Linked DNA regions of Homo sapiens: all the other regions are linked to region 3. The links come from fine-mapping of genetic effects on gene expression. A gene starts in region 3. Each other region holds a variant in brackets. All regions are shown on one strand. Distances are from middle to middle.

Region 1 (4,080 bases), 97 kb before region 3:
GGGAGGCAGCACAGTAAGAGGAAGACTTGGATTTAGTGATTGATGACTTCCTTTTTCCTCAAAATAAGCAGATTTCTTTCCAGTAGAGATCTGAGTCATTCAGTTTCTCAACATGACCAGGTAATTATGTGTTAAATCTAAACAGGCCTAGTTTGAAGTTCTACAAGAGAAAAATTAAATTTAAGATTATTCAAGTCTGAAAAAAACATTTTGAGGACATTCAGATTCTCCTCCAGAAATAATGAGATCATGTGACACTTATTTTCCATCTCTAAAAAATGTAGGCCAGGTGCGGCGGCTCACAGCTATAATCCTAACGCTTTGGGAGGTAGAGATGGGAGGACTGCTTGAGGCTAAAAGTTTGAGACACGCCTGGGAAACACAGTGACACCCTGCCTCTATAAAGTAATACAAAAATTAGCTGGGTGTTGTGGTATGTGCCTGTAGTCTCAGCTACTTGGAAGGCTGAGGCAGGAGGGTCACTCAAGCTCGGAGTTCAAGGCTGCAGTGAGTTATGATCGTGCACTGAACTCCAGCCTCGGTGGCAGAGTGAGACCCTGTCTCTAAATAAATAAATAATAAATTTGAAATGAAATAAATAGTTGGTCCCTTGGTTTCCATGGGACACTGGTTCTAGGATCTCCTGCAGAGAGCAAAATCTGTGGATGCTCAAGTCCTTGATATAAAAGGTATAGTATTTCCATGTAATCTATGACTATCTTCCTGTATACTTTAAATCATCTTTAGATTACTTATTAGTTGTTATATTGTATTGTTTAGGGAATTATGACAAAAAAAAGTTTATACATGTTCACCACAGATGGAACTTTGTTTTCCTTTAATATTTCGAATGCAGGTCGGTTGAATCCAGGAATGTGAAATCCGCAGATATGGAAGGCCAGTTGTACTTGATAACTATTTCAAGGATGACCTTAATGGCAGTATCATTTTGTTTATTAGAAAATTTGTCAAATTGTTATCTATTTTCCACAATAAGCAATTTTATACATGGTGCCTGAAGTCCCCCAACTTAGCTTGGAAAATTTTTTAAAATCAGTAACTCACCAAAGTGAATATTATTGTACTACAACCTAACTGCTACCTCTAACAATAGATAGTCCTACATGGAACTTATTCAAATTTTAAGTTGACATGCTAGGACTTTATCTCTGCTGTATCTGGAGCACAACCCAGCAGAACTAGGGGAGAGAGTAATGAAAAAAAGTTTAGGTTTCAGGGTATAAACATATAGGTCAGTAAGAGCCTCTTTTTAGTGGCATAACCTGCCCTTCCTCTCACACCTAACCTCAGAGATTGCCCTGCGTACATCTCATTTCACTTTCTATTGCTTTCAACAACCAGTTTCCTGACTTCTGCCTAAGTGGTGACTGGAATATGCAGCTTTCTAGCTTTTCTCCTACTCTGCTCTGTCTGAAGGACACAGGCCTTTCAGGTAAAGTATTCTCTGTTACCACTCACCTAAATGTACCATATGTAAATAGGCTTCTTCTCAAATCAAAGCAGATGATTTGGAACAAGCCACAGCTATCATTGTCAAAAAGAGGCTAAATTAATGTCATATTTTAAAAAGAATGTCAAAAAATGACAAATATTAGCATTAATAGCTGAAATACTAGAAAATGTGTTGTGAATATGCCATGCAAAATGAATACCACACTTCTAAAATAGCTATACAACTTACAGTCAATGACTCTCACCTATTTAATAATTATCTTTTCATCTGATAATACAAATCTGAGTGCAAGGTTTTACTGCCAAATTCATATATTAATAACTAAAACTTACCTGGTATTATATGTCAGGTACTGGGTACACTTTATTACTATAATTTTTACAGTAACCCTTTAATGGCTTATTATTATCTCAGTTACAGATGAGAAAACAAAGACTTAGGGAGGTTGAAGTAACCTGCTCAATGTCACTATAGCTAAGTCAATGGTAAAACCACTCTCTGGACTCCAAAATCCATGTGTTTAAACATCTACATGACATTGTTTGCTATACATCTCTACATGTAGGTTAAGTTTTATAGACAACTCAAATGCAATTGTCCAAAGCCAAACTCCTTTTCCACACATCTCCTTCTCCTCAAATGTTCCCTATTTCAGTAGATGCCACTA[T/C]ATTTCAATTTATATTTCATATATATTATTTCATCCTTCAGTAGTCATGTGAAATAAGCTTTATAGTTACTATATTTAGAGTAGAAAACCACTCAGAGACATTGTCATTCAGCCTAGGTCATAAGGCTATTATGCATAAGAGCCAGGACCAACCACTAAACACAGTTATTCCCCATTCACTGCTCTTCCTATCACATACCGCCGACTCTATTTAAAAAAAAAAAAAAAAGTTTTCGGACCAGAAGTGGTGGCTCACGCCTGTAATCCCAACACTTTGGGAGGCTGAGGCAGGAGGACTGCTTGAGCCCAGGAGTTTGAGACCAACCTAGGCAACAAAGTGAGACCCCATCTCTATGATAAATACAAAAATCAGCCAGGTATGTGGTGCGCGCCTGTAGTCCCAGCTACTTGGGAGGCTTCAGTGAGAGGACTGCTTGAGCCCAGGAGGCCAAGGCTGCAGTGAGCCAAGGCAGTGACTGCACTCCAGCCGGGGCAACAGAGCAAGACCCTCTCTCTTAAAAGTTTTGATATATAATGTATTAAGAATTATCTTCATAAATAAAATTTCATTTTTCCCTTTAAAGTATCTCAAACATTACTTAATCTATGTTGTATTATAAAGAAGGGAGAAAGTAAGACCTACTAAAGAAGAATGCCAGCAAAATTCAACTTCATTTAGAATGTCTATGTAAAAACAAATGACCTAAAGACTATTACAAATATTTCTTTCTTTTCTTTTTGGAACGAAAGAAGTAAAAATCCACAGAAATCAAGTTAAATCTCTAAAAAAAGCTTTAACCACGTTGCAGCTGGTTACTATAATAGAACAGAAAATAAGGCTAACTATGAAACATAGAAATGAGCTGTGAAAACCATGCACAGAAAGGACGTGCTTTCATTAAGAACAGCATGCTTCAATTAAATTTGCAGGCAATCTAAAGAGAATGTAAAACTGATGTATAAAACTTACCTACAGTGCAATTAAATTAAATACGCATTCGCCAAAAGTCTGCTCTCTTTTTTTGGTCTGAACAAGCCAACAACAGCAAGTAGCCAGAAGTTACAATCAATATAAAAGAAAAACTTAAGAGGAAATGGATTTGCTAGACTCATCATATTTTCAGTCTTAGCATCAAGAAATGAGTGATTATTTGCAATGAAGTTGGCAAGACAGGAAACTGAGTTAAAATTTATCAATCGTTTATTTCTAGGTAAAACTTTTTTTTAAGGGAGAAAACTCCCTCTAGTATTTTATCCCTTTTTGTAATACTGTATTTTTACTGTTCACCTTGAATCTTCAGATTTCTTAGAAATAAGATGGATTTTTAAAAATGCAGCCGGGCCAAGTGTGGTGGCTCATGCCTATAATCCCAGCATTTTGGGGGGCTGAGGCGGGAGGACTGCTTGAGGTCAGGAGTTTGAGACCAGCCTGGCCAACACGGTGAAACTCCATCTTTACTAAAAATACAAAAATTGGCCGGGTGCCATGGCTCATGCGTGTAATCCCTGCACTTTGGGAGGCTGAGGCGGGCTGATCACCTGAGGTCAGGAGTTTGCAGCCAGCCCGGCCAACATGGTGAAACCCCGTCTCTACTAAAAATACAAAACAAACAAACAAAAAACACCAAAAATTAGCCGGGTGTGGTGGTGCCTATAGTCCCCAGCTACCTGGGAGGCACAAGAATCACTTGACCCCAGGAGGTGGAGATTGCAGTAAGCCGAGATTGCACCACTGCATTCCACCCTGGGCAACAGAATGAGACTCGGTCTCAAAAAAAAAAGTAAAATGTAGCTGGATTCATCTAGCTCAAATCACTGTATTTCCTTTTTAAGGAAGAAAGTCAGGCAGCATAAATAATAAAAAGCCAAATAAGAGATCCAGGAAAAAATTCACTTAGAAGGCAACCAACTGCGTAGCTTATTCTTACCTTGGCTGTTT
Region 2 (4,080 bases), 59 kb before region 3:
CCAGACGGGGGTGAAGAGAGTGTCTGCAAAGCTGACAGTGGTGTTTTTATTTAAATGTAAGAGTAATAGATTTACAGGGTTGAGGGAAGGAACCAACAGAGTTATTTATACTAACACGTAAGGACATGGAGCAGAGCTCCAGCGTTAGAGATGTGAAGGGCTAAAATAGAAAAAACAAGACAAAGAATGAGCCTTTTCTGAGAAGAGATACTTTTATCTAAGAATGAAGGGAAGAAGATGAGAGGAGGTGAAGATATTTGTCTTTCTACCTAATTTTTCTGTAAAGCAGGAGACACAGTGCCCTGCTGAGAAGACCTGGTTAAAGAGCTTGAGCTGGCTGGGCACGGTGGCTCACGCCTGTAATCCCAGCACTTTCGGAGGCTGAGGTGGAGGGATCGCCTGAGGTCAGGAGTTTGAGACCAGCCTGGCCAACATGACAAAACCCCATCTCTACTAAAAATAAAAAATTAGCTGGGGATGGTGGCACACACCTGTAGTCCCAGCTACTAGGGAGGCTGAGGCAGGAGAATCACTTGAACCTGGGAGGCGGAGGTTACAGTGAGCCAAGATTGCAACACTGTACTCTAGCCTGTGCAACAGTAAAAGACTCTGTCTCAAAAAAATAAATAAATAAAATAAAAAATAAGAGGTTGAGCTAATAGGTAAGTGTGGAATTGTATATACCACACAACTCATAATATTGTAGGATATTGTTAATTATCTTTTAATAAAGTTACATTTAAAATTCCTAACTAGATTGTAAAACCCTCTGGGGAAGAAGCTATTTTTCATTTTCCTCTACACCTGCAAAGCATCACACTTTGCAATAACTCTCCAAACAGTGGTTGATTTGTTGTGGTTGTGCTTCAGAATAAGCAGCAAAGACAGGATAAAACAGGGAATGAAAAAAAGACACTTATTAGTTTGGTGACATGCATAGGACTAGGGGTTGCTTTAGAAGATAAGAACCCCCTTTATTAGAAGTTTCGTGTAGCTGAGGGGGAATCTGGAAGAAGCAAATTTAGCCAATAATTGCATGATAGAAAAGATCGGTATCTCTCTCCTCTTCCCTCACCATCTAGTATTTCTTCCTTTTTATGGTTTTTTTCTTTCTCTGAATATCCCCTTTCCTTTCTTGTACCTGGATTTTGAGGCTATCTATCTTCCTGCCCTCCTTTCCCCTCTGCCAGGATATGACCAAAATTAAGTATATTTTTGTTATTCCTATCAGTTTTAGAGATTTAGCCCAACCAAGAGGTCAGATGTTCTCGCATTAGTGGGCCTCAACCAAGACTCTAGATTTATTTTGCTAGAGTTTTCCTCTTACTATTTTTTATAAGCAAATGAGCTAAATGCTTTTATTTCTTACCCAAGAAAAAAAATCTACTTTACTTCCCTCCCTGATTCCTCTGACAAACTCAGTATTTACATGTATTTAGCCCTAAACTCACTCACTCACATTTCTTTTATTTTTCTCTCTCGTGGTGAATGGGTGACTCTTGCAAGACAGTTATCTGTCTTGCTTTATGAAAAAATTCTCTACCATTTAATATTTTACTAACATAACTGTTCCTGGAATACAAAGTTCATGTGTAAGCTAAAAACTTACTTAATATGCATATGGTGCTTAAGAGCACAGTGCTGGATTTAGACTGTCTGGGATTTAAAAACTGGCTTCATCATTTAGTAACTATATACCCAGGCAAGTTTCTTAACTTCTTCATGCCTCAGATTCTCCATCTTTAAAATGAAGCTAAGAACATCTAGATGACATATAAAGTTATAGAAAATTAAATTAGATAAATTAAACAGCATGTAAAAACAACAAATAGTGAAATTTTCCTTTTTATAAATGTTAGCTACTACTATAATCATCATAAGATTCCAATACAAAGGTCTGCTAAACCCACACCTAGATCACCTTAATCCTTAAGGATGAGTAACATTTGCAGTCAGGTACCTAGGGTACACGATCAAAGTTTTACTAAAACTTAGTTTCTAATACATTAGCAGAAAGAGATACTATATTTTACTGATTTGTTTACTCACTAAATTTCATTTAATCATCAG[A/G]AAATTAAAAATGGACTAAATTGGAATTAGCAGGAGACAGTGAAAACAACACAAAGATATATGTTATTTATTTGATAATCATTTTTAACATTAAGTGACCTTCTAATTATTAATACATACCATGCATTGTTAGGATTTAAATAAGACTGTTTCCTAACCCTAGCAAGCATTGTGGGGGAGAGAAGAAGGTAAATAAATAAATAAAATAAAGTACAATACAACACTTGTCCTGACAGATATATACAGAAAATTGTAGAACTCACAGAAAGTCAGTCAATTTTTACCAGGAGAGAAAAGAATGAAAGCCTGGTCTCTGGAGCAAGTTATTTCTCTGTTAAAAGCAAAATACTCATGAGAAATTTTTTAAAGCAGTGCCATTTTAAGAGCTCACTATGTAGGCCTATAAAACATTACAAGCAAAGCTATACCTTCTGAATTATAAGACTACAGCTATATTCCAAATGATATAAGTATTGAATACTAAATTTTAAATGACAAGCTCTAAGAACATGATGTTTTAGCCTATTTCAAATAAAAAAGAAGGCAGAGAAAGACCCAGAGGAAATCTATCAATCAACCACAAGCTATATCAGCAAAACTCATCAACTTCATTCCTAAAACTATGTCGATCCTTGAGCAATGTAGGGGTTAGGGGTGCTGACCACCCACTCATTTTTCTATGAGGAGAATTCTTTCTACTCTCTTAGCAATTTTCAAGTATATAAATCCATGTATACTTTTTTTTTTTTTGAGACAGAGTCTCTCCCTGTCACCCAGGCTGGAGTGCAGTGGCATAATCTTGGCTCACTGCAACCTTGGCCTCCCAGGCTCAAGCAATTCTCATACCTCAGCCTCCTGAGTAGCTGGGATTATAGGTGCGTGACACCATGTCCAGCTAATTTTTTGTATTTTTTGTAGAGATGGGGTTTCACCATGTTGGCCAGGCTGCTTCTGTACTCCTGACCTCAAGTAATCCGCCCACCTTGGCCTCCCAAAGTGTTGGGATTACAGGTGTGAGCCACTGTGCCCGGCCTATGTATAATTTTTGACTCCCTACAAACTTAACTATTAATAGCCTGCGGTTGACCGGAAGCCTTACTGATAACAAACAGTTGATTAACACATATTTTGTATGTTATATATATTCTATAGTTTTATAAGGTGATATGTTAAAAAAATCATGAGAAAATATATTCACTATTCATTAAGTGGAAATGGATGTTCATAAAAGTCTTCAGCTTTGCTGTTTTCATGCTGCATAGGCAGAGGAGGAGGAAGGGGGCGGGGTTGTTCTTGCTGCCTTAGGGGTGGCAGAGGCAGCAGAAAATCCTTATATAAGTGGACCCACACAGTTCAAACCTGTGTTGTTCAAGGGTCAACTGTATTTGAAGGGCATATATATTGCAATATGTCACACAAAATTGAGTTGCTGGACCAGAAGCAAATTTAAAGTTTTTCTTTGTGGAAGAGGGGTGGTTTAAAAAAAAAAAAAAAAAAGCCTTAACAGGCTCATATTAATTTTGAAAGCAGGTAGGATGTAATTCTTTAAAAAAATAAGAATGGAGGCTGGGCACAGTGGTTCATGCCAGTAATCCCAGCACTTTGCGGGGCTGAGGTGGGAGCATTGCTTGAGGCCAGCATGAGCAACATAGTGAGAACCCCATCTCTACAAAATTAAAAATTAAAAAAAACCAGGTGTATGCCAGTAGTCTCAGCCAGCTACTTGGGGCAGGCTGTGGGGGCTGAGGTGGAAGGATCTCTTGAATCTGGGAGGTCAAGGCTGCAGTGAGCCACAACTGTGCCACTGCACTCCAGCTGGGCAACAGAGCGAGATCTTACCTCAAGGGGAAAAAAAAAGAAAAAGAATGAACATCATTTCACATGCACATAAAACTGAAAGTGGAAAAAAGTCTGGATTAAACAAGTTCAGTACAAGGCTCAACAAAATCTTGCTTTCCTTTTGAGAGGATTCCCTTTGTTGAATTTCATGGAAATTTTGTGGGATACTGC
Region 3 (4,080 bases):
AATACTGCCAGGAACCATTTCCTTCCCTCTCTGCAGATGCAGGTTCCTCTGATAGGCATATCTCCTCTGCTCCTGATTAACACCATATCTAAAGGAAAGTCTCATCACATACCACCCAAAGCATGGCATCAAATGAATTTTTTAAATCCAACATTAGGGTCAACAATGACGCTCTTTATGAAAAGTGTGAGCCCCAACTGCAATTCATCTTCATCTCTCGGTCTTTTGTATCACTTGCCTCATAAACTGGTTAAGAAAGAAGAAAGCTATTACAAAGCATAATCAATGTTTGAAAATAAACATTAAGTGCCCCAACTGGTGAGAAAGACTCCTCCTAAACACTTACAGAAGATGAAGCTTTAACAAGCCCTCCAGAAATCTTTAGAGCCAACACGAAAGAAGTTAAAGTGATCTCACCACTCCTACAGGATGAGGACCCAATACAGTATAAAGATAGCACAGCTCTCCACAACATCCCCTAAGAAGACACTCAATTTTTACTTTAGTATAAGATCAGCCCTTCAGCGGACATATAGGACAAGTTTTTCGGTCCAACACTTACTGTGAATAAACCAACGCATGGAGCTAAAAAAGAACCAGGGAAAAATGGATGTCTCTCTAAAAAGAGCCCAACCTAAGTAAGGAATTACAAGACATCAAAGGTTAGATAATGGACAACAGGTGCCTTTGAGGAGGAAAGAGTAACACAACACTCAGTTGCCTCCTATTTTAGGATTTCCACTCTGAAAGCAATATAACGACAATTTTTTCTGCCCAAGAAAAAGGGAAGGCCAAAATTATAGGTTTTACTATTTAATATCTATAATAGGCCCATTGCTCTTTGACTTACTTTTTTACTTTAGATTTTAAAAATCCATCTCATCTCGATATTATCTGGATATAGTACGGCCTATGGCCAGACTGCTCACTGATCAGTGAACATTAACCAAGTAGAGACTTATTATCAAGAAATGTAAAAGAAAGGCGTCTGAATACAAGCTACCTGCACATAAAAAACTCAAAATACAGTTCCAGCAGTAGGTATCACACAACTGCGTTATCAGCCAAAGCTGAAACTGTTTCTCTCACCATTCTAACAGTTGAACTTAATCTTTTACTAGATTTCAATGGCCTCGAAGAATAGTAATTCCAGATTCAGCTTCTAGGGCAGCGAATACTAGCCTGGAGTTTTGATTTTCCTAGCCAGAAGATTACCTTCATCTGGTGAAAGGAACACTGAAAAGGCACTTCAGCCTATTTAATAACCTCTTCCCTTTCTCCATTCCACAAAGACAACATCTTCCAAAAATGGAGAATCCTTTCCTTCCCTGATAGAGGCCCCCTTTCCTATTGATTCATTGGGCAGAATCACTTCTCCCCAGCATGTATGCAGAACCAGAAAACACTTCTGCTTTCACTCTTAAAGAGGGTCCCCCAACACAGATGCACCTCTTCCTTTCCTGCATTAAGCAAATGATGCTCCGATGCTTCTAGGTCTCTCCACCACTGCAAAATGCTCAGAGAAGTGGAGGGATTGAAAAGGAAGTTGCCTACTACTCTGAAGGATACTGGAAAGTCGCCTTCAAATCTAAAGTGAAGACTTGGGGGCGGGGGATGCCCCCTTCCTGAAGAGGGAATGAGGGTCCCTCCCCTAAAAAGGAGCCTCTGTTCGGGTGAAGGCGATCCCCACCCTGAAAGAGAGGCGTGTATGTGGAAAGGTGGTGGAAGGTTGTACCCTGAAGAGGAGCCTGGATTTGAAGAAATGTCCCAACTCTGAAGGGGGGTAAGTGGAGGGAGCCGTGAGTGTACGGGGAGGGGTGTGCCAGCTATCGGGGGGCCTGAGAAGGAAGGGGTTCCCACTTTGGGGGAACGAGGGCCCCGCACTGAAAGGGGCTCCGGGAGGAAAGGAGGGTCTGACACAGAGGAGAGTTGGACATGGGGGAGGGGCCCTCAGTCCACCGGAGTCCGCGGAGGGGCGGCAGCCTCGAAGGGAACATGTGCAGTGGAGCCGCTGCCACCCCGAGGGGCAGGCGGGAGGGCAGGGCCTGGGCTGTGTGCGGAAGGAAAAAAGTTCCTACCCTTCGCAGAAGACGCAGGACTCCCCAGCCGTACTCACCGAGACTGCCGGCGAAACCGTCCATCTTGCGGGGAAAGCGCCGGGCTCCGGGCTTAGAGGGGCGGGCACTTCATTCAGCGGACCGACAGAGTGGCCGACGCTGAGCCTGACCCGCTCGTTCTCTAGGTCGCCCGGCTCGGCTACCGGCTCCCGCCTCCGTCGTCCGTCCGTTCGCCCTGGGGTAGTAAGCCGCGGCCGCCCGAACCACTTCCCCGTCACGTTGAGAGCCGCGCCGCTCAGCCGCCTGCCCGGCCTCCCTCCCAGGCAGCAGCCGCGAGCGCCGCGCCGCGCCGCGCCCCGCCCCGCCCCCGCGCCCGCGCGCAGCAGTAGCCCCGCCCCGCGCACGCCGTCACACTTCCGACTCCGCCTCCCACGTGACGCCACGGAGGCGGGGTCTTGCCAGCCCCGCCCTCTCACCTTGCCTCGGCCTCGGCGTTTGTCCGCCTCGCGCCAGGCTGGTGGTTGCGCCTGCGCGGTAGGCCTGCTGAAGGCTGGGGACCACGGTTTGGAAGCTGGTTCCAAACAGGTGGGGATAAGGCATAGACTCTGGCCTGCGATACTCTGATGCATGAAGGATCCTCTCCCTATGTGGCCCCTGGGAAGCCCGCAGAGCCAAGACTGGACCCCCGTGACGGGAGATGACCACCACGTGGGTCCTACAAGGACACTAAAGAAGCAACCAAGAGGGAGAGGTTCTCCCTCTCCCCCAATAGGGTGGGGGACAAATAGGGGCGAAGCTTCTTGACTAGCTCGATACCACCACTGCCACAGCCGCAGGGCCCGGGACAGATCAGAAGCAAGGAATTTTAGTGCTGGACATGACCCAAAAGTTCATCTTGTCTAACCCTTCTTATGAAGAAAAACACAGAGCCTTAGAGAGGACAACCTGCCCAAGGTCATCGAACCTAGTAGAAGCAAAAACTCAGCCTTCCTTACTCTCCCTAGCGTTCTGTCGTCTAGGGGTGCAAAACGACCATATATGGCAGGCTATAGGATGGCCTGCTAGGGAACCATAATAAGGGTTATTTCAAATGAAGTAACACTGAGTTCTAGGCCCAACTCCGTATGACTCAAGAGTGTCAAATCACCTAATTTATTTAGGCGTCACTTTATTCATTTGCAAATTGGTTGTCTGGACATGTAACCAAAACATGTAAATATACATAGCGTTCATATTCTTCCTCCCTTCCCCAACACGATTTCCCATACTTCTAAAGACTTTCTCATGGTTTGTCAAGTCCCTCCTGGGGCTCAGTTGTGCAGATTAGAGTAAGAGAGAGAAGAGCTGTAAGGTACTGAAGAACTGAATTGATCTATACATAATAAATTGATAAATACATAATAAAAAGCTGAGTTAGGGGAAAACAGAGTCCTACTACACAGAGTTGCAGGAGAGAGGGACAAACAAGAAGGGAGACAAGAAATATGTAATGATGAGAGAGACTTAGAGGAATTAAATGATTGAAAGGATTGTTAAACCTTCTTGGGGTATACGTCTCCCTTTGTTGCCTCTTTAAAAATCTTCCCTAAAAATGTAAATTACTTTGCATTTCTTATTTGGATATAAGACCTGTTTCTGAATACCATACTATATGGAGACTGGCCATAACGCAGCCAAGATAAATTCAGGTTACAGACTAAACGGTGTCTAAAATTTCCTTCTCTTCAAACTTAAATGATTTACCCAATGTTCCTTCTGCTATGGGCATTTTCATATGCATAAGTTTCTATTAAGCCTAAGTAAATGTTTGAGAAGTTCTCAATTCTGACAGCTGTTCCTTTGTGTCTTCAGGCCACACTCTCTGCCTTAGGTCGATTAAAAGAATAAGAACTTGGCATATTGGTATACATATGTTTTATGGTCCAGACCTGGAAGTGTGTACCTCCCTTTTGTCCACATTCCACTGGCCAGAACTTGGTCACATGACTGCAAGGGAGGCTAGGAATGTAGTCTGTGTATCCAG
Region 4 (4,080 bases), 110 kb before region 3:
GACACAGGTTGCAGTGAGCCAATATTGTGCCACTGCACTCCAGCCTGGGAGACAGAGCAAGACTCCGTCTCAAAAAAAAAAAGAAAAAAAGAAAAAAAAAAGGTGGAGTCAGGATTCTAATCCAGGCAAATCTGCTCCGGATACTTTTGCTTTTAGTATTACTAATCTTCATTCCTGAGAAAATAACACATTTTATCAATGTCCAATAAACTGCTAAACAGCCCTTAAATAGCATTTGAAACTGGAAGGGGTCTTAGAAGTTATCCAGTAGAAACCTTCTACTCCTTTTCTTTAAAGAAACTGAAGCCTGAGAATGTCATGAGTATAGTCATACATACGTTACTCAGTCACCATTAATAGTCACTGTTGATCCTTAGAAATAAGGTATTTGTTATACAAACCAACTGAATAATATTAAATAGTAACTGTAACTCTTTAAGTTGTATCAGTTCTAGTCACACATAAAATCAAGAGTTAGCCGGGCATGGTGGCACACACCTGTAGTCCAGCTACTCACTCAAGAGGCCAAGGCTGGAGGATCACTTGAGCCCAGGAGTTTGAGCCCAGCCTGGGCAACGAAGTGAGATTCCACCCCTATAATTAATTAATTAATTAATTAAGAAAGTAAATAAGAATCAACAGGTTCATCAACTAAGGGAAACTGCAGTACCTTCCCGCAGACACTGGTTACTTTATATGTTATTTTATATAAAGAAAATGTAACGAGCGTATCAGTTTTCCCATTTTTACAGTAAATAGCTTCTTAAGGGAGAACACTTATTTTTTAAAAACAAAATTTATTAGTATGACTCTGTCTTTTAAAGTGTTCTTATATCCTAATGTTTTTTCCATGCTTATACTAGAAATTCCTCAGTACTTAAATTTTAAAAGAATAAAACAAATGAGTTGTGGTTAAAATTACAATAGATTCCACTCTAACAGCAATGTCTCTAGGTACAGAAGGCATAACACTATGCCACTCACCCTTCCATCTTTATCCACGCCAGCTATCTGTCCAGTTGCAATCCTAATTTTGTCAGGATGTATAGCAAGGCTAAAAAGCAGTATTAAGAATGATTTTAAACACAGGAAACATGAAACAACAGAATACCTTTGTACTGACATTTTTCAAATAAGCAGTTTTTAATCGTTAAAAAACATACGTTTATCTGTTTTCTTCAGCAAATCAAACAATCATCAAATATCTGAAGATTTCTGAATTTTCAGCTGTACTTTTTACTTGTTAAGCTGCACAGATTAATGAAACACTAAGTTCAAAGAAAATATTTATAACTGTGGCATGCTAACGAACTGTTTTCATTTGCTGAAGTTCCTTTCTAGTCCACGCACAATGGCATACAAATCACACGACTTTATTATAGTGAAGATGCAATATTGTGCTGTTTAATTTTAATCTATTAAAGTACAAGCATTTTTTCCTTTTGCTACATAATCCTCATACATGCTGACTTGACAACTCTTCCATCTTTTAGGCCATTTCTTACTTTTCAACAAAAGAAAACAGCAATGAGCATCTTCACACATAGTGCTTTCAATCTTTTAATTAGTTCTTAGCGCTAAATTCTTGTAAGTCAAACTGAGGCAAGGAATTTTTAAATAGAAATGGGAAGTAGCGTAGCATATGTGCCTAAATTACTCACAGCACGTATATGAGTGACTAGCAAATTTCTGAAAAAGACATCTTTATGTCCATATCTAGACTCTTTCAACAACGGTTGTACACTGTGAACATTCTCTTGCTCTTAAATATTTGTACTTAAGAACACATCAGAGGGATATTTACATATTAATACATAAAGTGCTTCCTCATTCTTTACAGCTACATGGTGACCTATAGGTACACTACAACCTCACCAGTAGTCCCCAACTGAAAAATACTTAGGCTGTTTCTAATCTTCATCACAAACAATGCTGCAGTAAATAGTTTTGTACATACATTATTCTGCAAGTGTAAAAGGCAATATTTTAATCAACTCCA[A/G]AAGTTCAATATCTATATAATATTATAATAGTCATCTATTAATTTTTTTCTGGATAAAGATACAGGTGCCAGCATAGTACAGACATAAAAGCTTTTAAATGTTGGAAAACATCCAGTCAGTCCTTGGATCTAAGTGGGGAAAAGGGTAATAAATAAAAAATAAAAGTTGGAAAATATTAATAAACAATAAATAATTGCATTTAACTAAAAAGTAACAAAATAATTTAAAAGCATTTAAAAGGAGTTCTCACATTTGTAGTATGACATCCTACGGCATACTTATGATCCTTATTCAGCTAGATTTCTTTCTTCCCAAAAGAATAAAGCTTCAAGTATAAAATTTATCTACATAGGACAAATCCTCAATAAATATCGAGTAACCAATAATCACTTTCAGAAACCTGAAAATGTCCAGTCTGTCCCATATATGTTTCACACTACAGACCAGAGAAGAGAAGGACTGTACGACATGAGAAAGCAGAAGAGGTTCCAATCATGATTTATGGAGGATGTGTTTTGTTGCTGCTGATACCACACCACCATTTTGGAGGCCGAAAGTCCTTTTTTTCTTTTTAAAATATATTCAACAGATGACCCATAATATTTTTACATTCTGAGCTTTCCACAAGAAATCACTTTCAATAAAACCCAAATTTAAAAAATACAAAATGAGGGCCTGAAAGAACAAAAATGAACCAATGTTAAATGATACCAACCATTTCACACAGTCTGTATGGCCCAGGTAGTGTCGCTGAGTTCTCTCCTCATAATTAAATAGTACTACTACTGATGCAATGAAATAAACTATTTTCCCGGTCGGAAGAAGGTAAACATTAGCTCTACAGTCCTTTCCTCGATAACCATATCTTAACAGAAAAAGAGTCAAGGTTTTAAATAAACACAGTTTTCAAGTTGTTAACAGATTTTTCATGGATACTTAAGGAATTAGGAAGGTACAATGAAGAAGACTGAACTAGAACTAGAAAACTCATGTCCTGGACGGGCAGAGTGCTCACACGTGTAATCCTAGCCCTTCAGGAGGCCAAGGTGGGAGGATCACTTCAGTCCAGGAGTTTGAGAGTAGTGCGGGCAATAGTGAGACCCCATCTCGACAGAAAATAAAAAAAATTAGCCAGGCATGGTGGCCTGTGCCTGTAGTTCCAGCTACTTGGGAGTCTGAGGTGGGAGAATCACTTGAGCCCAGGAGGTCAGGTCAAGGCTACAGTGAGCAGTGATCGTGCCACTGCACTCCAGCCTGGGCCACAGAGACCCTGTTGCCGCCCACCCCCACCCCTCCACCAAAAAAAAGGAAAACTCATATCCTGCCATTATCCCTAGCGTAACCTGACTCTTTCAGTATGTTAAGATCTTAGTTTCCTCATTTACCAGACAAATATGTATTGAAATCCTAATGTGTATCAGGCATAATGGTGAACATTCAGTTCTGAACAAAAAAAATGTAGGCCCTATGTCTCTAGAGCTTATCCTCTGGCAAAGAAAAAAAAAAATCACCAAATATAAAATTACAAATCGTGGGGGGGTAAAAAAAAGACTGCTAGGAGAAAGCCCAAATGGAGGACCTAATTTAGATGGAGAGAAAAAGAGAGAGAAGGGAGGGACCAAAAGAAGGCCTATCTGGAAAAGGGATATTTATGCTGGACCTAAATGATAAATAAGTAATAGCAAGGAACAGTTTGGTAGGCAGAATGTTTGTTAAAAATATGTTGTACAGAATGAAAGGATTGGTGAGTGTGTCCAAGCTGATATCTGCCTAAGAAGGGAATAATTCAAGGGACGTGGGAGGAAGTGCAGGAGAATGGAGGCAGACAACAGAGTTCAAACTACCAACTCCTTCTGTTTCACTGAGTTTCTTGGAGGTTCTAAAAGAAGTGAAAATTTCTAGGTGAAATTAGGAAAGCTCTCCTTTAACAGTCATTTAAAAAAAAGTCTGGCTGAAAAGTTAATTCTGAATTAGAATCAGCCTTGTTAATTTGAGGTTACAAAATGCTTAACTGATGTTTTCTTATTTAATTCCTACAACAGCCCCTGTGAGGTATGGGTTATTAATTAACCCCTTTTAT
Region 5 (4,080 bases), 100 kb before region 3:
CTCCTGAAAGTTTCCATTTTAGGAATCCATTTTTTAATCTGTATTTTACAATCTTTAGAACTAAAAAGCCTCCCCCAAACTGGAATTTGAGTTTTATATTTAACTGAAAGGTAGGAGAGTATGATGCTACTTAATTTCTGCAAACAGAAACTTAAAGAATCTTTACTTAATTTGAGCCTTTTTTCTGATACTATCAGTCTCTACTTCCCAAAACCACAGAGTTAAACAAAAGGACAACCAAAATGCTAGAAATATTTACTGTAATTTTATAGTAGAAAGTGACAAGGACCATTTTTGGAAGGCTAAAATCTTTTCTTAAAAAGGTTCTTTATCCAAACAAAAGACTTCAAGTTCCAGTTAATGATCCAGTTATTTTCTGGTTATAATTCAGTATTTTAAAATTCCAATGAAACAATGGAATCTGTAAGCATGTTTGGATTTTGCCCCCTTTCAATGATCTAGCTGTAAAAATAGTTAAATCATAAAATGTAGATAACCAAATAAACTAAAAGGGAATTTAGAAGGGTATAATCTAACTTTCTTATTTCACAGATTTAAAAAATTTTTAGTTCCAGTACTTGCTAAAGATTAGTAGTTTTATTAGCTAGCATAAAACTTGGGTCTGAAAAAATCTGACTAAGTACAAAATGCTACTTTAATTTTTTTCTTCTATTGGCTGATAAAATTTCCTGAATTTTTAATTACATAGTGGGGTGGGGGATGCACAGTGTAAAAGATATGAACCTAACCTCTTAAGAGCTTAGATTGGAGACATAACCATGTCTTGTGCACCTGTTAATCAACTCTTATACTAATTACACTAGCAAGCCAACTTACAGTTACCCACCTTCTTGAACCTAAACTCCTTTAATCAGATTTCTCTTGATGTTTTGTTTACAATTCTGTCATAAAATTACTTGAAAATATCAGACATGAGTTTGCTTAAGCATTTTAGATTATTTTTACTGCTTGAAATGACTTTATTGGGAAAAGATGGAAAAGAAATCTATTTCAACAATATGAGACACATAAAACTGCTAAAAGACTAACTATACTGCTTAAAACTTTTCTGTAGGCAAAATATGGTTTTATTTTTAAAATTCTCCCAACTCATTCACTTATATCCTCAGGAAAAATTATTTAAAGCACTAAATAAATGAAAAAGCTTTTCATTTTATATGAATATACCAAGTTGCACTTAACTTTTTAAAAATAAGAAATTTGAAAAGGAAACTTCAAATGTCAAAATATTTAACACCCTGGCTCTGCTTTCTCAATTAACTATAGCAGGGAGGCAATCAGGAGGCCTCAGCAGAACATTAAAAACCTGTATATAAAAATTCTGATTAAACAGGATTAATGAGAAGTTTCAACTATAATGTTATTTCTTAAAATATGTTTGAAGGCTGTCCAATTTTTTAAAATAGAAACTATCCCAACTTCTAAGAACATGTTCTTGACATCCTCTTTCCTTATTTTCAGCGAAGAAAAAAGCCCCAGCTGCCTTCTCTGGACATCAAGTATATGACTTCATTAGAGAACGTTCTAATCTTATACGTATTTATTGTGGTTAAAGTCTTTTCATTCAAATTACGTGTATTTTTGCTATACACATACTTTTTAAAAAAAATCTAAACTAGAAAATGTAATTAACCAGAAATTTTTCAGTCTTCAAGTCTGCCAGTTAACTGAGTGAAATATTTTCATAGTTAGAAATCTGTGCTGTCCAGGCCGGGCACAGTGGCTCATGTCTGTAATCCCAGCACTTTGGGAGGCCAAGGTGGGCAGATCACCCGAGGTCAGGAGTTTGAGACCAAAACAAATGAAAAAAACCCCTGAATCAAATAAAGCAAAATGTAAAGATCTGATAAATCTGGGTGGTCAGTATACAGGTGCTCACTATATTATTTGAATATATTTTTAGAAACATTAAAATAGTTCACCAAAGTTTAAAAAGCATTATTAAAGGAAAACAATAGAATATTTTTGGTGAAACTGTTCTTTGGAGAATTGTGAGTGTAGTTCAGGGACGTGGCACAGGATTTACTATGCTTTTTCCTTGAAATCTTGGTATATGCCACTGATCAACCGCAACTCTTCCTGGCTACAGCTAATCACAAATTTTAGCATTCTTTTCAAAGTGCTTCTAGAAAACAATAACAATTACTAGAGTAAGAAATACAGTATAGAATATAACTGCCATTTTTGGACAGGGTTTTTTTTTTTTTTTTTTTGAGATGGAGTGCAGTGGTGCGATCTCAGCTCACTGCAAACTCCGCCTCCCGGGTTCAAGCGATTCTCCTGCCTCAGCTTCCCAAGTAGGTGGGGACAACAGACAGGTGCCATCATGCCTGGCAAATTTTTGTATTTTTGTAGAGATGGGGTTTTGCCATGTTGGCCAGGCTGGTCTCAAACTCCTGACCTCAGGTGATCTGCCCACCTTGGC[C/G]TCCCAAAGTGCTGGGATTACAGACATGAGCCACTGTGCCCGGCCTGGACAGCACAGATTTCTAACTATGAAAATATTTCACTCAGTTAACTGGCAGACTTGAAGACTGAAAAATTTCTGGTTAATTACATTTTCTAGTTTAGATTTTTTTAAAAAGTATGTGTATAGCAAAAATACGCGTAATTTGAATGAAAAGACTTTAACCACAATAAATACGTATAAGATTAGAACGTTCTCTAATGAAGTCATATACTTGATGTCCAGAGAAGGCAGTTGGGGCTTTTTTCTTCGCTGAAAATAAGGAAAGAGGATGTCAAGAACATGTTCTTAGAAGTTGGGATAGTTTCTATTTTAAAAAATTGGACAGCCTTCAAACATATTTTAATCTGGAAGACTGCTACTAACCACAACATTATGAAATCAGATCTTTGCTTTATAGGGCTTAAAAAAAAATCTCCAACAGAGGAAAGGTCCCCTTTTTTGGGTCTCCTTTTAAAATACAGATGGCGAGACCAGCGGCCTGGCGGGCCTGCTGTCCTTGGCAGTGCCTTCTCTACCCTCTTAAATAAAATAAATAAAAATACAGAGAATACTTGGACAAAGCCCAGATGTAGGGATCCAAGTTATGGTTATACAGGTTATTAAAAGGGACAGTATGTAAATTTTAGAACTAGCCAGGCACAGTGGCTCATGCCCATAATCCCAGCATTCTGGAAGGCTGAAGCAGACGGATCACTTGAGCCCAGGAGTTCAAGAACAGCCTGGGCAACATGGCGAAACCTTGTCTCTACTAAAAATATAAAACTAGCTGGGCACAGTGGCACATTCCTATGTGCCAGCTACTCTGGGGGCTGAGATGGGAGGATCAACTGAGCCCGGGAGGTCAAGGCTGCAGTGAGCTGTGATCATTCTACAGCATTCCAGCCTGGGCAACACAGTGAGACCCTATCTCAAAAATAAAAAAGAAAATACATAGGTTTTAGAATTAAGTATGTGTCTCCACTGGAAATGCATTGGTCTTCCGTCCTTTCTGTTTATCCACACTCAACAAACTTCTTCCTAAATTCGGGAATTGCCAAGTTTGGGATACCACCTTGGTAAAAAGGAAAGAATCTGTCTGTAGTTCGATTAAAGGCTTTTGACTTTTTTCATTTGTTTCAAACTGCACACTCTCTCAGTAAATGACAATATACACCCTCTCAATAGGTGACACAATATACAGAGTCAGCAGGACACCGCTATTATATATCTTTATCGATAAATTTTAGCTATTCTTTCAGATACAATGCTCAGTTTGCACAGGTGTGAACAGATTTTAGGACTAAATGTGCCTGGAGCCAAAAGGTCAGAAAACATAATGCAAGGCTCTGAACAAAAGCACCTGCATTCAAGCCATCCTCCCACCTCAGCCTCCCAAGTAGCTGGGACTACACGTGTGCCACCACGCCTCGTTAATTTTTTGTATTTTTGGTAGAGATGGGGTTTTGCCATGTTGCCCAGGCTGATCTTGAACTCCTGAGCTCAAGCAATCCACCCACCTTGGCTTCCCAAAATGCTGGGATTATGGGCATGAGCCACCCCACCTAGCCTTTAAGTTCTTCAAAAGGTAGTTCACAAGCAAGTTAGTGAAGGTA
Region 6 (4,080 bases), 160 kb before region 3:
ACTTGTGTTTAGAACAACCACCTATAATGGATTATTTTCCTAATGCACATAGCATAAAGAAATGTTCAGATCTATGATCAGGCTGGAGAACCCAATTTTCAGAAGGCAGAGATAAATTGTTAAAGAGAAAATATTAATTTTTGTGTATTGCTTTAGGTATTGGTGCCACATCCATATCCAGTATTTTAATTACCTGAGCATAACACTTCTTTTTAATTCTTTGCAAATAACGCTTTATTATTTTAACTTTTCCATCTATCTTCTAACCCTTTCAGAAGGATACCTAAATACTGAGGAAGGCTTAGAAAACAGTCATAGAGGTCGGATTTCCAGAAAGTTACAAAACGTCAGATTAGGAAGAAGCCCCACATAGTTATCTTTATATAATTCTCCTAAAAATGCCTTTGTATTTCAACAAGTGGTGTAAGGCAACTAGACATCCACACGCAAAATAATAATAAAATACACTGACAAGGACATGGAGGAACCAGAACCCTCGTACACTGCTGGTGGAAATGTAAATGTAGTCACTGTGGAAAACAGTCTGGCAGTTGCTCAAAAGAGTAAACATACAGTTACCATTTGACTCAGCAATTCTACTCCTAGGTAAATACCCAAGAGAAATGAAAACATGTCTACACAAAAACCTGCACATGACTGTTCACAGCAGTGGTATTCATAATAGCTGAAAAGTAGAAACAGCCCAAGTGTCCATCAGCTGATGAATGAATTAACAAAATGTCATCTATCCATACAATGGGATATTACTCAGCCATAAAAAGAGTAAAGTACTGATGTATGCTACAACGTGGATAAACCTTGAAAACGTTATGCTAAATCACAGAAGCTAGTCTCAGTGGATCAAATATTGTATGATTCCCCTTATATAAACTATACAGAAAAGGCAAATCAATAACAGATTAGTGGTTGCTGGGGGGTGGGGTAGAGGATAAGAGAGATGGGGTAACTGTTAATGGGTACAGAGTTTCTTTGTGGGGTAATGAAAATGTTCTAAAATTAGACCTTGATGGTCACACAACTAAGTATACAAAAACCACTGAATTTTACACTTTATTTATTTATGAGCTGGAGTCTCACTCTGTCACCCAGGCTGGAGTGCAGTGGCACAATCTCAGCTCACTGCAGCCTCTGCCTCCCAGGTTCAAGCAGTTCTCCTGCCTCAGCCTCCCACGTAACTGGGATTACAGGTGCACGTCACCACGCCCAGCTAATTTTTGTATTTTTAGCAGAGACAGGGTTTCACCATGTTGGCCAGGCTGGTCTCGAACTCCTGAACTCAGGTGATTTGCCCACCTCGGCCTCCCAAAGTGCTAGAATTACAGGTGTGAGCCACTGCGCCCAGCCTGAATTTTACACTTTAGGTGAATTGTATGGCATGTATCTCAAGCTATTTAAAAATGCCTTTCCAAATTTAATAACTTCAATTTTCACTTAAAGAAAAACGGGAAGGTAATCTGTACTACTATGTAAATTCCTTGTCTTTCATATTAAGGACCAAAAGTGCTTGATTCTGCAAAATACAAATCCCATGTTGGTTCAATCCTAATACATTTAATTTCTCTGAGGCTGACATTAATAGTGATAAAGCTAAAGAATACACAGACTATTTTTCATTTATAAATTTAAGCAAGTAAATATTATATATAAAAAACCCACAAACCACTTCTTTACATCAGGTGTCATTTCCTTACCAAATACTTGAAATCCTAGCACACAGGTATATGTCGTCCAATCAATGTCCTTACAATCCGATCGATTCCTGATTAGTTTGCAGCCATTTGGAATGTCCCCTTTAAATTTAGAAACAGGAAGTATAATCATAGTGCTTGTGTACAAATGTATTTGAAAGTGCATCTTGATTCAAACTAGCCACGTTTACTTGTATTTATAATCCATACACTGAAAAACATTAAGACACATTTAAAAAGGAAAAGAAAGTGTTCACTTTAACAGGGTTTATAAAACTACAAACTGTTTCCCATGGAAGTTTTTTTTTTCCTCTAAAAAGCATAAATGCCCATCTATCATATTCCTCCCTGCCTCCAGGAGAAGTAATTAAATGAAAAACCATT[C/T]AGAGCAGCATCAATTTGACAGAGTAATTTCTTATTACTATATGTGCCTTCTGTTCTACACTATTAACATTAATTCATTACTCTTGGAGAAGTGAATCACATTTGAGATTCTCATTACCTTAGCTCAGCATAACATATGCTTTGTCAGGTTAAAGAGGTTGGCAAGCATTCTCTGCACAATTCAGATTCCATGCAGCCTGTTCATTAGCGCCCCTGACAGACACATCTTAGCATATATATATATATATATATATATATATATATATATAAATATAATCATAGCATATATATATATATATAAAATCATTCATACTTACAGTACAATATTTCATAGTCTCCCGAGTTAGACATTATATACTTGTTGTCTGGGGACCAGTCAAGGTGTGTGATGTAGCTGGAATGTCCCTAGAAAATAACAGATAAATTGTTAGAAAGCATTTAGAGTTCTGAATGATAAACAGTTCAACAGCTAGCCAATACTGTTTCTGAATACACATTTGTTGGAATTTCTAAAGGAGAGGAAGCAGTGTCACACCCTCTAAAACTGAGCAGGCTCACAGCAAATCCTCAGCACTTGAAACCTGGGAGAAACTTTCTGGCCTATCTAGATACCAGAAACTAGCACCTACTACCTGTATTAGACACTTCCAAGAAAGACAGTCTCTTAAACTTGTATCTTACAGGACATTGCAACACATACCACACCCTCTGGCCTTATTTCACGTCACTGGTGTCCCCATGAGAGTGACTCCATTTTTGAGAATGAAGTGTTGGTTATAAGTTGTGCATAAGGCATCAGGAATACAGTTTTCCTGGGCTACTTCTGAATTATCCATGGTACAACTCAGAAGCTGAGGAATACAGCACCCGTATATGGTCTATGGAGGTATCCTAGAAAGACTATCTCTAAAGAATGTTTTGGGGAAAATTCACCCAACGCTGTACTCCATCAGAACAGTAGGTCTCAATAAAATCATGATTCCTTAAAACATTCCTTAAGCAGGAAACAACGATCTTTTTCTGCTTAGGTTTTCACACTGTGGGAATTAAAACAAAAAAACTACGAAACACTAATTTTTGTTGGCTTCACGTATAAGCACTTAAGCATTTCCAATAAACTATTTCAGATAAATTACACAGATCTTATGGTTCACCAAAGCTGACAGAGACTTGAATTTGCTTTTACCTCCTACAGTCTGTGGTCAAACACATTTAATTTCTACTGTGCTTTTTCAATTACTAACTTTTTTTTTGAGACAGGGTCTCACTCTGTTGCCAAGGCTGGAGTACAATGGTGCTATCATGGCTCACTGCAGCCTTGACCCCACTGGGCTCAGGTGATCCTTCCACTTCTCAGCCTCCTGGATAGCTGGGACTACAGGCACATGCCATCACTCCCAGCTAATTTTTGTATTTTCTGCAGAGACAAGGTTTCACCACATCGCCGAGGCTGGTCTTGAACTCCCAGGCTCAAGCGATCCTCCAGCCTCAGCCTCCCAAAGTGCTGGGACTACTGGCATGAGCCACTGTATCCGGTCAATTACTAGCTTTCTGGTCACATGATTTTATTCTTTTTATTTTGAGACAGAGTCTCTGTTGCCCAGTCTGGAGTGCAGTGGCACAATCTCAGCTCACTGCAATCTCCACCTCTCAGGTTCAAATGATTCTCATGCCTCAGCCTCCTGAGTAGCTGGGAATACAGGTGTGCACCACCATCCCAGCTAATTTTTTCTATTTTTAGTACAGACGGGGTTTCCCTGTGTTGGCCAGGCTGGTCTCGAACTCCTGGCCTCAAGTGATATGCCCACCTCAGCCTCCCAAAGTGCTGGGATTACAGGTGTGAGCCACTGCACCTGGCCTTTATTTTTTTTCACCTATTCTTTTCTTCCTCTAAGACTTTTTCTTTTTCTTTTCTTTTTTTTTTAATTGAGACAGAGTCTCACTCGTTCACCCAGGCTGGAGTGCAGTGGCATAATCTTGGCTCACT
Region 7 (4,000 bases), 180 kb before region 3:
TGGGCAGGTAATTTCAAAGGGTTATTTGCCTCATCTCCTATCTTTAGTGAAATCTTATGTGTAATTATTCCACCGTGGGAACAGAGAATACCTGTTTAGTGTTGCACTTTAGACTGGTGTCTGTTTTGTTAATGCAGCTGTGCCACAAATTCTCCTTTATCTTTTAAAAATGTTATAGCTTTAAATTTTGATTTATTTTGACTGTGGAATAAATACATGAATGAAAAATTTTAAGTTTGAAGTTCTTTGAATGACCTTTCAGAGTAATTTCAGAACACCAGCAGCATCTTAAACCTGAGTCTAATTTCTTTCTTGTTAATTAGGCACCAGATAATCTTTATAAAATGGTTCTTAAAAGTCTAGTAATAGGAGTCTTAATGGCATATTGATGATTACCACATGGTTTTTTATAAAAACCTGCCTGCCCCTTAGTGAAAGGTACCTGTAACTCACAGTTCATTTAGACACTAATTTCCTTTGCTGTCATGATTGGTAGACTTCACTTACCCTATATTAATTTTGAAAAAAGGTGGAATTTTATTATATATGAAGGAATAGTTTGTATCTTACCATAGCACAGAACAGTGACCTCTTGCTCAGGATAAGATGTGGTGATTTGAAAATACTCAATAGTAGCCTTGCAGTGATATCTCTCTCTCTCTCTCTCTGCAAATCTAAATTTTATTCTCTGGTATTTCCTCCAAGTTTTTATTTTGAAAATTTTCAGACTACAGAAGGACTAAGCATAGTACAATATACACCTGTATATCCTTCACTTAGATCACCAGTTATCAATATATTGGCACCTTTGCTTTTTCTTGTTCTCTCACACAGGCACACACAATGCATATATGCACACACACATAGATCTGTTTTTTGTTGAGTCATTTAAGATTGTTAGGGAATTATGATAAATCAGCCATAGTACTTTAGCAGGTATCTTCTGAGTAAGGACATGTGTTCCTTTATAACCATAATGCAGTTGTCAGACTCAATAAAGTTAACATTTATAACAATACTACCATCTAATACATAGTTTACTTTCAGATTTCCCCAGGTGTTCTAATAATGAGTTCTTCATAGTTGTGTTTTTAAAAAATAACAGCTTTATTGGGATATAATTTACATACTGTACAGTTCACCTCAAGTGTACAATTCATTGGTTTTTACTGTATTTGGAGTTGTACAGCCACCATGAGAATCAATTTTAGAACACTTATATCACCCTAAAAAGAAACCCCATACCCATTAGCAATCACTTGCCTTCCCTCCCACCATCCCAACTCCCACCTCCTAGCCCAAAGCAAGCACTCATCTACTTTCAGTCTCTATGGATTTGTCTTTCCTGGACATTTCATATAAATATAATCATATGATGTGTGATGTACGTGACTGGCTTCTCTCAGTGTCATGTTTTTAAGGCTCATCCATGTTGTGGCATGAATCGATACTCTATTATCTGAATAGTATTCAATCGAATGGGTATACCACATTTTGTTTATCTATGGTTGGACATTTGGGTTCTTTCCACTTTGGGGCTGTTACGAATAATGCTGCTATGAGCAATAGTGAACATATGTTTACATGGACATATGTTTTCATTTCTCTTGGGTATCTACCTAGGAGTGGAATTCCTGGGTCATATGGTAACTCTGTTTAACATTTTGAGGAACTGCCAGACTGTTTCCAACTCAGTTGTACCATTTAACATTCTCACCAGCACATGCAGTTCCTTTTTGTTTTTGTTTTGGGTCCAGGATCCAGCAAAGGATCATACATTGCATTTAGTTGTTGTCACTTTTTTTTTTCTTTTGAGATGGAGTCTTGCTCTGTCTCCAGGCTGGAGAGCAGTGACGTGATCTTGGCTCACTGCAATCTCCGCCTCTCACGTTCAAGCAATTCTTTTGAGTCAGCCTCCCGAGTAACTAGGACTACAGGTGCACACCACCATGCCCAGCTAATTGTTTGTAATTTTAGTAGAGATGGGGTTTCACCATGTAGGCCAAGATGGTCTCGATTTTCTGACCTCATGATCTGCCCGCCTCAGCC[T/C]CCTAAAGTGCTGGGATTACAGGCGTGAGTCACCGTGCCCAGCATGTTGTGACTGTTTAGTCTCTTTTTATCCAGAATAGTCAGTCCCCAGTGCCCTTCCTGATAGTGACCTATTTGAAGAGTCCAGGCAAGTTGTTTTGTAGGACATTCCTTAACTTGGATTTGTCTGATTGTCTCATTGGTGGTTTCAGGTTAAACATTTTTGTCAGGAATTTTTTATAGGTGATATGGTGTCCTCGTTATGTCAGGTGGCACTTGATACCAGTTTGTCCCATTATTGGTGATTTGAAGTTGTGTCTGCCGGATTTCTCCCTTGTCAAGTTGATACCCTTTCCCCTTTGCAGTTAATAAGTAGCCTGAGGGGCGATATTTGAGACTAGGAATATCGTGTCCTCAGCAGTTTGCACTCTGTTCATTGGTCATTCTTGACTGAATTATTACTAAGGTAGTTGTAAACTGATTTTTTCTGTTGTCATTCCTTCTACATTTTTGATATTTCTTCTGTGAAGATGAGCCTTTAAAGAAATTTGATGGAATTTCCTGATTTGATGTATAGTAAGCATTTCTGCCATTATTGATTTTGATGCTGAAATGTGGCTTCTGTGTTCTTTGAGCATCTCCTATCAGTCTTTGATCACCTCCCTACCTTGTGACAGACAAGATGGCTTCCATGCTGACCTTGTGTTTTCCTTACCTCAGTTTCCTCTGTTTATTATGATATATTCTATGAACATATATAGATGCATTTTCTTTTTTTTTGAGATGGAGTTTCGCTCTTGTTGCCCAGGCTGGAGTGCAATGGCGCCATCTCGGCTCACCGCAGCCTCTGCTTTCTGGGTTCAAGCAGTTCTCCTGCCTCAGCCTCCCGAGTAGCTGGAATTACTGGCATGCGCCACCATACCTGGCTAATTTTGTATTTTTAGTAGAGACGGGGTTTCTCCGGGTTGGTCAGGCTGGTCTTGAACTCCTGACCTCAGGTGATCCACGTGCCTTGGCCTCCCAAAGTGTTGGGATTACAGGTGTGAGCCACCACGCCCGGCCAACGCATTTTCTTTGCCTGTTTTATTTTTGCCTAAATGGTAGTTAGTATACCTTCCAAATCTCACTTGTAGCTTAGAGATTGTTCTGTCTCATTTTTCTATATTGGATTTTATTTTATGAATGTACCATAGTTTAGTCTCTTTTTGAAGGGTATTCAGTTTCAAATTTTTTGCTTTTATAAATATGACTTTAATGCATAATCTTTAGCTGTCATTTAATACAATGTTGGATATATTTCTAGGATCATTTCTAGACGTGAGATTTAGGAGGTGAGGGGGATGTGCATTTCCAATTTCAATAGTGCTAATTACTAAAAAAAAAAAAAAAAAAAAGGTGCTGGTTTACATTCCTATCTAGCAGTGTTGAGAGTGCCTGTTTCTTTTTACCTTTGTCTACATAAAATATTACCAAACTTTTTGATCTTTGCCAGTCCTCTAAGTGATAACATTTCTTTGTGGTTTAAATTGCCTTACTAGGCCGGGCGCCATGGCTCACGCCTATAATCCCAGCATGTTGGGAGGCTGAGGTGGCAGATCACTTCAGCTTAGGAGTTCAAGACCAGCCTGGGCAACATGGTGAAACCTTGTCTCTACAAAAATACAAAAAGGGCTGAGGCAGGAGAATCGCTTGAGCCCAGGAGGTCAAGGCTGCAGTGAGCTGAGATTGCGCCACTGCATTTCAGCCTGGGCGACAGAGCAAAAGCCAATCTCTAAAGAATTTTTAAAAAAAAGTACTCTGGAGATAAATGGGCAAAGTACATGAATAGATAGCTCATAAAAAAAGGAAATATAATTTAACTTTAAAAAGAATAAAACATTTTTTTAAAAAAGATATTCAACATCACTAATTATAATAAAAAGCTAATTTCCTTTTTTTTTTTGAGACAGGGTCTCACTCCGTCGCCCAGACT

Which allele goes with the higher level. Alleles are on the strand shown, and positions count from the first base shown. SD is a standard deviation of normalised expression in the study named. Not every link is listed here.
With allele C in place of T in region 6, the expression in testis of the gene that starts at base 2,400 in region 3 is lower (small effect, 0.36 SD a copy in GTEx).

The links. PIP is the estimated chance that this variant, and not a neighbour inherited with it, causes the effect.
Region 1: its variant is fine-mapped to the expression of EML4 in whole blood (INTERVAL, PIP 0.97).
Region 2: its variant is fine-mapped to the expression of EML4 in subcutaneous fat (GTEx, PIP 0.99).
Region 4: its variant is fine-mapped to the expression of EML4 in whole blood (TOPMed, PIP above 0.99). The same link has a PIP of 0.9 or more in blood mononuclear cells.
Region 5: its variant is fine-mapped to the expression of EML4 in sun-exposed skin (GTEx, PIP above 0.99).
Region 6: its variant is fine-mapped to the expression of EML4 in testis (GTEx, PIP 0.91).
Region 7: its variant is fine-mapped to the expression of EML4 in whole blood (INTERVAL, PIP 0.98).

Annotation. Positions count from the first base shown.
Region 1 is chr2:42,264,941-42,269,020 of GRCh38, reverse strand. The region is part of intron 6 of EML4 (EMAP like 4); the gene reads right to left. Among named protein-coding and RNA genes, the nearest start is that of COX7A2L, 94 kb to the left of the region's middle. The variant T/C (reference allele first, on the strand shown) is at 2,142.
Region 2 is chr2:42,226,961-42,231,040 of GRCh38, reverse strand. All of the region lies in intron 1 of EML4 (EMAP like 4), which reads right to left. Among named protein-coding and RNA genes, the nearest start is that of EML4-AS1, 59 kb to the right of the region's middle. The variant A/G (reference allele first, on the strand shown) is at 2,071.
Region 3 is chr2:42,167,673-42,171,752 of GRCh38, reverse strand. EML4 (EMAP like 4) reads right to left here and starts at 2,400. Exons shown (of 23, transcript NM_019063.5): 1 at 2,117-2,400. The coding sequence starts at 2,141. EML4-AS1 (EML4 antisense RNA 1) reads left to right here and starts at 1,522. Exons shown (of 4, transcript NR_110584.1): 1 at 1,522-1,783. RefSeq lists silencers at 2,389-2,448, 2,549-2,598 and enhancers at 2,014-2,666, 2,679-2,818.
Region 4 is chr2:42,281,608-42,285,687 of GRCh38, reverse strand. EML4 (EMAP like 4) reads right to left here. Exons shown (of 23, transcript NM_019063.5): 8 at 2,716-2,865; 9 at 985-1,054. Among named protein-coding and RNA genes, the nearest start is that of COX7A2L, 78 kb to the left of the region's middle. The variant A/G (reference allele first, on the strand shown) is at 2,000.
Region 5 is chr2:42,270,232-42,274,311 of GRCh38, reverse strand. The region is part of intron 6 of EML4 (EMAP like 4); the gene reads right to left. Among named protein-coding and RNA genes, the nearest start is that of COX7A2L, 89 kb to the left of the region's middle. The variant C/G (reference allele first, on the strand shown) is at 2,447.
Region 6 is chr2:42,323,885-42,327,964 of GRCh38, reverse strand. It overlaps EML4 (EMAP like 4), which reads right to left. Exons shown (of 23, transcript NM_019063.5): 20 at 2,411-2,498; 21 at 1,713-1,811. Among named protein-coding and RNA genes, the nearest start is that of COX7A2L, 35 kb to the left of the region's middle. The variant C/T (reference allele first, on the strand shown) is at 2,094.
Region 7 is chr2:42,346,730-42,350,729 of GRCh38, reverse strand. It overlaps COX7A2L (cytochrome c oxidase subunit 7A2 like), which reads left to right. Exons shown (of 3, transcript NM_004718.4): 3 at 1-1,392. Among named protein-coding and RNA genes, the nearest start is that of COX7A2L, 12 kb to the left of the region's middle. The variant T/C (reference allele first, on the strand shown) is at 2,050.